Linked DNA regions of Homo sapiens: region 1 is linked to region 2. Evidence: fine-mapped expression QTL. A gene starts in region 2. The other region holds a variant in brackets. All regions are shown on one strand. Distances are between the middles of the regions.

The links. PIP is the estimated chance that this variant, and not a neighbour inherited with it, causes the effect. A credible set is the group of variants that fine-mapping cannot tell apart.
Region 1: its variant is the best candidate, but not a certain one, in a credible set for the expression of TMEM65 in whole blood (TOPMed, PIP 0.54).

The regions. Positions count from the first base shown.
Region 1 is chr8:124,031,016-124,036,392 of GRCh38, forward strand. FER1L6 (fer-1 like family member 6) reads left to right here. Exons shown (of 41, transcript NM_001039112.2): 19 at 4,262-4,439. The region is part of intron 1 of FER1L6-AS1 (FER1L6 antisense RNA 1); the gene reads right to left. Among named protein-coding and RNA genes, the nearest start is that of FER1L6-AS1, 7.1 kb to the right of the region's middle. The variant A/G (reference allele first, on the strand shown) is at 3,141.
Region 2 is chr8:124,369,629-124,375,005 of GRCh38, forward strand. TMEM65 (transmembrane protein 65) reads right to left here and starts at 3,073. Exons shown (of 7, transcript NM_194291.3): 1 at 2,226-3,073. The coding sequence starts at 2,529. RefSeq lists silencers at 2,096-2,145, 2,156-2,285, 2,336-2,465, 2,596-2,865, 2,986-3,215 and enhancers at 2,940-3,234, 3,446-3,635.

The DNA.
Region 1 (5,377 bases), 340 kb before region 2:
ATTCTTAATTGTTTTTCTCTGTTGTGTTTTCTTTTTTCCTACCTTTCCATGCTATTCTCAGAGGGAAATACCTTGCTGTGGTTGGTGAAGCTTCAGGGGCACATGAGAGAGGAAGGAGAGTGGGGAAGCAGGTGTAGGAGCCAAGGGAGAGCTTTCCCTTGGCCCTCTGAAGCTTCGCTGAAAAATCAATTCACAAAAGGTAGATTAATAGGAGAAAAGGCATACAAATTTATTTAATGTATATATTAAATATACACATTAATATATGGGAGCCTTTAGAAGGAAGATCCCAAAATAGGGGGAAATCATCCATTTTTATGCTTAGGTTCAACAAAGCATGGATGGACATGTAGAAATACGATTCAGTAAAAAGGGTATTATCTAATGCTAGTGGACTGAGTGGGGAAACAGCAAGGCCTGTCTGCCTAGCTGCTTCTTGGCCTCTCTGTAGCATTCTTTCCTTCTGGATGTGGAGTAGAACCCTCTCTGGAATGGGCTACAGTTACACAAGATAGGTCAGATAATTTCTTTATGGCCAATTTTTACATAGAAAGGCAGAGGGAAAGTTAGAGTCATATTTTTAGGTTTTATAGCTGGCTTTGGGGAAATGGGGTTCTGGTTTCTGTGACCTGCACTAGGGAAGAGAGATTCTAGTTTCTATGGCTAACCTGGGGGTGAATGGGACTGAGAGATAAGAGGGCAGGAGGTCAGAGAAACACTTTTGCTTCTGAGGCTTTCATTTGGGGGTATTGTTTTCTGAGCCCCAGTTGAGGGAAGGCAGGGGCAGACATGTAACCAGGCTGAAAGTACACATGAAATTAAAAATGGGATCCTGTTCCTGAAAGCACCTAGGAAGGTGCTCGATAATGTTGAATGAATCCAACTTAGATACTTAAGTGAGACACTGCATTATCTTGCCAGCAATTCCAATTTGCATATATTTTTTTAAATGTACAAGTTGCTAACTTTAGGAGTGCAGCAACAGTCTTTGTGGAACACTTTCACAAGACATTAGCTGAGTCTTTCGTTTTAACCATGAGTTTAAACACCCATTTATTGTTTAGTAGCAGTAGAAATGAATGATGTTTTTTGTCATTGTTTTGTTTTACTTTAAGAAACACAAGGCCAGCCTGGCATGGTGGCTCATGCCTATAATCCCAGCACTTTGGGAGGCCGAGGCGGGTGGATCACCTGAGGTCAGGAGCTCAAGACCAGCCTGGCCAACATGGTGAAACCCTATCTCTACTAAAAATCCAAAAATTAGCCGGGTGTGGTGGCATATGTCTGCAATCCCAGGTACTTGGGAGGCTGAGGCATGAGAATTACTTGAACCCGGGAGGCAGAGGCTGCAGTGAGCTGAGATTGCACCACTGCACTCTAGCTTGGGTGACAGAGCAAGACTGTCTCAAAAAAAAAGAAAAGAAACACAGGCCCAGGCTCTGTGGCTCTTGCCTGTAATCCTAGCACTCTGGGAGGCCAAAGGGGGGCAGATTGCTTTAGTCCAGGAGTTTGAGATGACCCTAGGAAACATGGTGAAACCCCATCTCTACCTCCCAAAAAATCAATAAATACAAAACTATCCGGGCATGGTGGTGCCTGCTCATGGTCCAAGCTACTTGAGAGGCTGAGGTGGGAGGATGGCTTGAGCCCAGGAGTCAGAGTTTGTAGTGAGCTGAGACTGCACCACGTCACTCCAGCTTGGGTGACAGAGCGTGATTCTATGGGGGCAGGGTGGGAGGGGGATAAAAAGAAAAGAAAACCCTGCAGAATCTCAGATGTGCTTTGCTTAGGGCAATGTAGCACACTAAGTTAAGAGCATTGCTGCACAAATACTTAAAACTGAGATCTGTAGACCAGCAGGATTAGCGTCCATCAGGAGAAATCAGATTCTCAAAATTTCCCAGAGACCAGTTGAATTTGAGTGTGCATTTTAACCAGATGCCCTGGCAATCCATGTGCTCACAGCAGTGTGTGAGGAGCATTGGCTGAGAGTCTGGGCTCTAACCCTGATAACCTATGATTTGGTGATAGCTTGCAGGCAATAGAACATTCTGTGTGAAGAGAGAAACATTAGACCAGGGCCTAGAATGATAGAAGTGCTCAACATGTGTTAAATATTATTATTGTTAGAAAAGTAAATAAAGGATATTCACTCAACCTATATTTACCACATGCTTCCTGGGTGCCAAGAACTCTTTTAGGCACTGGGGACACGGCAGTGAAGCAACAGACAAAAATTCCTTTCTTTATGAATTGATGTCTTAGTGATGTCTACAAATGGCAGAGGGATTGCTTTTATTATAGGAAAATAATCTTAGGCTTTCAATACGTATTAATTTTATTTTACAAATGTATTCCCCAATACATTTTGGCTATTATTATTAGAGAAGTGATAAGTTGAGGGTGATTTGTCTTATAATTTTGTAAATTACAGGTTGTAGAGTGGTTGCCTTTACCAACAACAAAATAAACTTACTTGATTTTTTTTTTTGAGCTCAACAAACACTGGCATCCTACTGCTTAAAGAATACAGTCCCAGCTCCTCCACATACTGAGCAGGATTCTTCAGCTTCATCTGTGTCATTCTCTGTCTAGCTCTTATGCTTACTGGTTGTGACTTCTTTCCCAAAAGCTCTTAGCATCATTCCTGGCACAGAGTAAGCACTTGCTAAATATTAGCTCATATTACCTAAATCTTTGTTCACATGCTTTCCTCTCTTTTTGGGATCCAACTAAAGTGCCCATTAAAGCCCAGCTAAATATTTGAATCCTAAAGGAAGGATGGAAATCACTGCTGCTACTTCTCAGTTTCCTCAGTACTTTCTGTCTTTGCATTTGAGTAGGTGAAGGTAAGTGGCCAAGTGGAGTGGCCTCTTTGTGAGCCCTGGAGGGAGGGCCAGGACTGAGTCTTCTGGCCCCACTCCCTCAGCAAGGGCCTAGCAGCACTGGCAGTAGTTGCTAAGCTGAGTTGCTCATAATCCATTTGTGGAACCCGCAGAGCACAATAGAAAGGCAAACAGCCATGCTCAATTTCGGATTCAGAGACTCTCCATGGGGTCCTTGGAAATTGTCAGAGCAAGTTGTGGCCTTTCATAATAGGATTTTGTGACTCTCAATGGAAAGGAAGTGATGTTAAAAAA[A/G]AAAAAGAAGAAGAAGAAGAAAATTACTGACAGGAAATTCTAAGAAACACCAGGAAGAGGAACTTAGAAGAAGAGTTGACAACATTTTGAGAGGTAGCAGCTAAGTGCCATAGGTTACTCTCAGAATGATGGCCTTGCTGGCAACAGCCAAGACTGGGTCCTGGGACTCCTTAGAGGGGTAAGGGAGTACCCTTATCCTGGTGACTGAGAAATAAAGGAGCCACACTGCCTACATTTTGTCTTTAGATTCTGAGAATACATGCACCCCTATGCAGGCATATACACACATATACATAAGTACATGCACACACAGGCGTATGTACACACATACATGTGGACATGCACACACTCCCTGTGCATACTAATACTACCCCACTCATACAGACATAAACATAGAAATTAAAGCAAACATAAATAAAAATACAAATCTGAGCACATTCAAAAGAGAGAGAGCAGAGCAGTAAGGGAATCTGAGACCACACTGCATGAGGAAGCGGTGAAGGTGTTTAGCCAGGAGGAAAGTGCATGGCAGGCCAGGTAGATTCTTCTAAGTCATAGAGTCCTGACTTATGGAAGAAGTACTAGGATTCTTCTACATGAAACAAAGAGGTAAAAAGTCAGGTTGGAACTCCAGACAGTTGGAAGTTCCAGGAAGAAGATTTCAGCTCAGAGTGACAGTCAGGCTATGGGGTTCAGAGTCTAGAGTCTAAATTTGGAATCATCTCTTTTATTTTTGACTTTCGTCTCTGTCACTTAAAAACTGAGCCATCACAGGCAACTTACTTTATCTCTCTGAGCCTGTGTTTCCCCATTTATCAAATGGTGGCAATAAACACACCTACTACCTATTAAGTTTAAATGACCCACGGCTTGGAAGAGCTTATCACAGTGCAGGTTTAAGCTTTAGGTCCCACTAGACCTGGATCTTCCTCTGGAGATATGGAGTTGTGCATCAAGGCAATTGGGGCCATTGTCTTTATTTTGATTTAAGAGGAGCTCTTGAGAACTGCTCTCTGAACATACTTCCAGGTGTGTCTCCAGGAAGGACCTCTTTTCTCAAAAGGGGAGGCCTATAATTATCTCCTACTAATAAGTCAGTCTTTTTTGTAACCTTTCTCCAGCCTCCTGGGAAACGACCGGCTGGTTGGTCTGTGCAAGCAAAAGTCGACGTGTACCTGTGGCTGGGCTCCATCAAGCATGCCAGTGCCATTTTGGACAACTTGCCAGTAGGCTATGAAGCAGAAATGTCCTCCAAAGGGGCTGGCACCAATCACCCCCCATCTAACCTGCTCTACCAAGGTAGGGTCCCCACTGGGCAAAGAGGGTCATTCGAGGTCTCAGGTGGGCTTCTGAAAAGATAATAAGGAGGGCAGCATGCATGAGTTTTTTGCACATTATTTTAGGGCCAACTTATTGGTCTTCTTAAGTAAAGTACAGTTTCTAAGTGTTCTACCTTACCTTTCATTGTCCCATCTAAAAAGAGTAAAATCATTAAACACATCTGGAATAAACACTTATGTTTCTCTGTTAATAGAGAGGAAGTAATTTGAGTTTCTTTGTAGGCAGATTATGTAGGTTGAGTTTGCGTTTTAAGCAAAAAATGTCAGAATGTCAATATGTTCTTGTGCTTACATGATCTGTGGAATTAAGGCAGATTTTACTTTTATGTGGCATTCGAGTTTTGACATATCAACAGCAGATATTCACATTTCCTAGTAGTAACCCAGTGGAGACTGGTATCAGTAGGTTCACTTATATTTCTCCAGCTTGGTTCTTGGCTCGGCTGCTTTTAAAATTCAGCATGCTTTATGGAATCCTTTTTCTATGTAGTTATTTTCTGTAAGTGCCATCATGTTTATGTTTTGATACATTTTTGAGTTTTATTATAAATATTCCTTACACTTGCATTTTGCTTTCTGCTTCCAAATTACTTCCATTTATGTTATCTCTTGCTGCTGAGTTCAGATAAAGCAGCCTGCAGTTTTACCTTCATTTCTGCTGAAGTTGAGTTTTGGGTTGAGCCAATGTTGGAAACACTGGAGAATTGTCTGTAGAGTCAGGTCTTCTCTGTGGCCCAAGGCTCCTCTGAGGTTGGTTGAACTTAGACTGCCAGTGGAATCGAAGTTGCTCAATAGTCAGAGAATACAAGGTTCTGGAAATACATATCCAATGGTTCAGCTCATGGTTTCTGTACCCCATATAAATGCGTAAGAGCATTGTCTTTGGAAAATGCATAA
Region 2 (5,377 bases):
GGAGTTTTTCATTTATCTGGCTGGAAAAAAATTGTTGATTTCAGCAATGGAATGAGCTGTACGCATTCCCAACATAATAAAATCCCTTTTACCTTAATGATTAATGAATAAGGTAATTTCCTAAGTGATGATTCTAGTTATCTCCATAACTATATGTATTGATACTGAAAACAGTAAGTGAACACCAAGACTACATACACTAACAAAGCAGCAGCATCTGTGTCATTTGATTCATAGGACAATCATTTTGTCATCGACATCAGCAAAAATAGCTGATTTAAACTTTGATGTTCTTTAGCATATAAAGAGGAGAGATAAGCATCTGACTAACCATTGTTTCAAATATCCTTGACTGTTTCTCCTGAGCAAAGAAGACAATTTAAATTACTAATTTCTCTCTCATATTAGTAACATAACTAAGTTTAATTGATGCTAATGATCTCCATTGACTAAAGTGCTTAGGTCCTTTTCAGAATATTTAAAACCACGTTAAATTTAAAAATATTATCTTTATTAGGAAATGTAGCATTGCTACTGCAATACTGCTGGCATGTAAAAAATAATAATGTATGAGAAAAAAATTATTCAGTCACCTTGCAGGACATGTTTTTCAAGAACTGCCACAAAACTATATTCATAGGGCCCTCCAATCTTGTAACTTGTTGACAATGCAGAATTTCCAAGAAATTACTTGGAAAAGGTAAAATGTGTGTTCAAATAGTCTTGTCAGTGCAGAAAGATTCAAAAGTTAATGTTCTAGTACATGACTGACTATATTATTTTTCCAAGGAGCATATTTTCAGAATTGACTATTTTTAAACTGCATACTGAGTGCACACATAGATTACAAATGTGCTAGTGTTTCATTATGATTGCATATAACATCATGATTACACATTGAATAACGGAATTGATCGGACGTTACATTTTCCTGTAAAAGCACTGTGGGTAAACAATGTCTGGAATCAATCATCCACTATAAATTGGTCCACAATTTCCTGAACTGAGGGGGAAAACATCTGATTAAAAGCCACAACTAAAACAAGTTTCTGAAGTAGTACAGATAACGTCCTGCTTACATGAGGTAGATAATTCTTTCCTCCATTCCTGCACATCAGCTAAAGATATACTTTCAAGTCTGGCAAATCAAATGGCATGATCCGAATCAATGTGCTCTACACTTTGGAATCTATGAGATGTTTATGTACCTACCAAGTTTAGAGAGGAGAGTAAACTTTTTTAAAACTTTCAAACACATCAGAATGTAATACAAACTGAAGCAATGTGTTTTGTTTACATAACTGTATTTAAGTGGCAGAAATATTTTAAGACATCCATTTTAGTCGTTTGCTCCTTTCATCCTTTTTATTTTCTGAACTTTTAGCTTTTTCACCTAGACTCAAATTCTGCCCTACCCCATTCTGGACTCCTTTTAGAAATATCCTATTTTAACATGCTAGTTTAAAAATCGTTTTGCTTTCATCATTCCCAATTACTTTTGAGCATCAGTCTGACTTTTACTACAGAGCCACAGATTTCCAAAAAATATACCTCCTTATTTATTTCATTCTTTCAACCTCTGGGAAAAACCAAAACTGGAGTTTAACTTGAATCTGTCTTTCCATTTCTGGAGAAAATGTTTCCTTTGGCTGCTGAAATTAACGCAATCAGACATGTGTGGAAACAAGCAGCTATGAGCATCCCTGACTTTCGAAGCTACACCCCTTCTTTTGGCTACCCACCCATACGTCTTCATTTGATAACCGTTCAAAAAGTTTCTTCCTGCCAGGCGGGTTTGCAGCACTTTCTCGGAGCAGGCACAGCATGCCACCTGCACGGGTGCACGCTCGCAAGAAAGCAGCAAGGGCTAAGGGACAGGAGGGCTGGGGAGGGGAGGCACGGGGCAAATCAAAACTCAATCCCAACAGCGTTAACTGGCATTTTAGGCCGAAGCTCCGGATTCGGAGGCTGGGGAGGAAGTAGCTAGCGCTGGCCTCGGCTGCCTGGCACGACCCGCGCCCGTCCTACCTGCCTGGGGGAAACTCGGGCGGCGGAAAGTCTCCCCGCCCCCAGCCGTCCCAGGCGTGGGGCCAGACAGGCGAGGGGGGCGGAAGGGGGGCGGCGGCGGGGGTCCAAGATCCAGGGCCGCAGCGGGCTCCCGGTGGGCTGGCGAGAAGAGGAGGGCGTCGGGGCCCCCGGGCTCGCCCCCCACCTGCCCCCCTTACCTTGGGCAATGGCAATAGACTCGAAGCGGTGCAGCTCTTTGAGCAGGCAGCTCCTCTCCGTGGAGTGCAGGCTGTAGATGAAGTCGCGCGCGCCCTGCGCCGTGTTCAGCGCCTCCATGGGCTCCTTCTTGGGGTGCGTGCCCAGCCGCCTGGGGCCGCCCGGCAAGCCGCCGGGGGGCGCGAGCGCCAGCAGCCCCCGCCCGCAGCAGCACCAGGACGGCGGGCGGGGCGCGGCGGCGGCGGCCGGGCCCGGCCTCAGGCTGCGCGCGGTCCGGCTCCTCAGCAGCGGCAGCAGCCGGGACATGGCGAGCTGAGGAGCTGGGACCCCCGCGGCCGTCCGGCAAGGCGGTTTCTGGCGCGGCTGAGGCGAGAAGGAGCTGGGCTCAGCTCGACCCCGCCCCGAGGTCCTCCTGCCAGGCAGCCGAGGCGCCGGGCACCATGCACTCCGCGGGCCCGCGCGGCTCTCGCCTCCTGTTCCGTCCCCACTTCCTTTCCAAAAGGCCCGCGGCGGCTCCCGCCCCTCCGATGGGAAAAACTTTCTCTGAGACGGCCGGGCCCGGACAGCGCCCGGAGAGGGCGGGCGGTCGGTGCGGGCGGGCGCCTCCCGGCTGAGGAGGAGCGGCGCGGGCGGGCGGGGCGGGCTAGTGTGTGTCTCTGTCAGTCTGATCTTCCAGAGGATGAGTCAGCCACGCACCGCCCTCCTCCAGCGCCGCCCTACTCTCCCGCCAGCTTTCTCACCCTCTAGCCTCCCCACGTCCCCACTCTGTAAGGTTCCCGAGCCCTCAAAGCAGCCGCGCTCCCGAGCCGCAGCCGCCGCCGCCGCCGCTACCCCTAGCGGCAGCAGAAGTGGGAACGGGGCGGGGCGAAAGGGGAAGGAGGTGCGGGGGGGCGGGGAGGTGTGTGAGCGAGGCTGCGCAGGCGCAGTCTGCAGGCTCTCGGGCCGCCCTCCCTCCTAGGGGAGGAGCGTGCACACGCGTCCCCTCCCGCGCTGGTGCGTGAAGGTGGAAGGAGGTAGGGTGCGCCACCCTGTGCTGGCGTTAAACCTACAGATCGGAATAGGGAAAACGAGCTCTGGACCCCTCGCCCGCCAGGGTAGTACAGCTGCCACCCGGCCCCCAACCTGGGGCCACATCTGGAGCTTGTTCTGAAAGGTGCCCCGGCGTGCGGCCCCGCTCTGGACAGGCGGAGAGCTGCGCTGCCACCCCAGCCCCGACGGGATCACGGCGCTCTGCTCCGGAACGAAGCGCCCCAGCTGCGCCCTTCGCCAAGTCAGCGCCCACCGCCGCTTCGGCCGAGCAGGCCGGCTCTAATGCAGTCGCTCTGGGCGCCCCAAAGAGAAAGCGAAGCCAGTTCCACCCCTGCCCAAGGAGGGTCTGAGACTGAGCCCTTGACACGAGAACAGTCCTCCCCGTTCAGATTCCAGCAGCTGGCATGCAAATTGTTAATGCTAGAGGCAGAGGCAAGAATGTCATAGACCTTTCCTAGTGGTTGCTTGTGATTTTTTTGTCTCTGTGCTAAAGCGGGAAGAATAATTTGATTGTCCACGATTTCCCCTGATCCAGGTCCTAGGCATCTTTCAAGGCCCAGGTGAAAGGTCTCCTACTTCATTAAGCTGTCCCTAATCTCTTCTAAGGGAGGAGATCTCTGCTTTATCTGAACCTGTCTAATGACGCTTAGGCACCCTTAGAGAATAAATCCACTTAATAAATCTGCTGGAGCGTAATCAAGATCTAAATCCCATCCTTATCATAAACAGTGCTGCACTCAGCCCGGAAACTTGTAGGTAGTAAATGTGCTACATGTAAGTAGAATATTAAACTGAATAATGGAGGATTGTTACCACTAAAGCCTCCTACTTCTCTAACTCTGGTTCTCAAAGTGTGTCCCAGAGCTTTTTAGACGTGAGAAATAGTGGACCCCACTTCACACCTCCTGAATCAGAACGTAGACATTGGACCCAGTCATGTGGGTTTTAACAAGCCCTCCAGTAATAACACACACGAAAGCTTGAGAAACACTGATGTCTCTTAAACATTGAAAGGAATCGCTTCTTTTTTAAATTCCAAGGTGATGCCTCTGTGATGTAATAACAACAATTAAGAATGCTCTCTGTGGAAATGAAAGCTTTTTGAGTGCATAAAGTATATCTTCCTTGTCTTTGAAACCCCCTTCATTCCCTAGTGTGCACTGGAATCCTCTGCAGAGCTATTTCAGTCTCAGGCTCATGGGAGTACCACCCCATCCCCCCCACAATTTCCTACCCCCAAGATATTCTGATTCACTGGGGTGGATCACAGGCCCCAGACCTGGGAAGTGAGGTTTGAAAAAAGTTCTTCAGTAAGAACCCATTCCCAACCACCTCCAGAATAGTAGTTTAGTGTGTAGCCTCCAGAGACAGACTGTGGAAAGTTCGATCCCTGGATCAACCGTCTCCTAACTATGTGTTAGTATTAGATTGTTATAGTAGTGATCCCCAATGAACTACACCTTCTATTATCCGCTCCGTTGTGTGGTCCACCTCTACATTGACTGTGGGCTTGGCTATTTGACTTGTTTTGGTCAATAAATAGGAGGACATCATAAACGTGATATGATACATGTTTGCTCATTGGGGTTTGCTGTAATGCTTTTGCTATATTACTATAGAATATTTAATTCTATTATAAAACAAGAGAAACTAAAATGTAGAAGCAAGTCACTTATGAGAAAGGTTACACATAGAATGAATGGATATGGGTTGAACATAGATAAAAAGGATGGAACAAATGAAAATGCTGCTTTAGATAGAGGCAGAAAGACAAAGTGGACTTTTAAGTATTAATAAGGTACAGATCATACTATCTTCAGATTTACAGCCATGTCATCCCTAAATTGCATACCTACTGGTAACACCCATTGTAACGCTATTATGGCCTCATGTAATCTCTTCCCAAGAAAAGCAGATAAACCCCCAGCTACAAAGCCAACTAATGCCAGCTACCATTATAACCAGACACACTTGCCCCTCAGCTCTGTAACAGAACAGACATATGTTGAGCCCAGGCCCCTTCAGTCTGTTGAGTCACCTTACTTACTCTCCAGTCTGGTCCTTGTAGCCACACTATGTGCTGAGAAGACTGGATGGTGGAGAGGGATAAGACATGAGAACATTG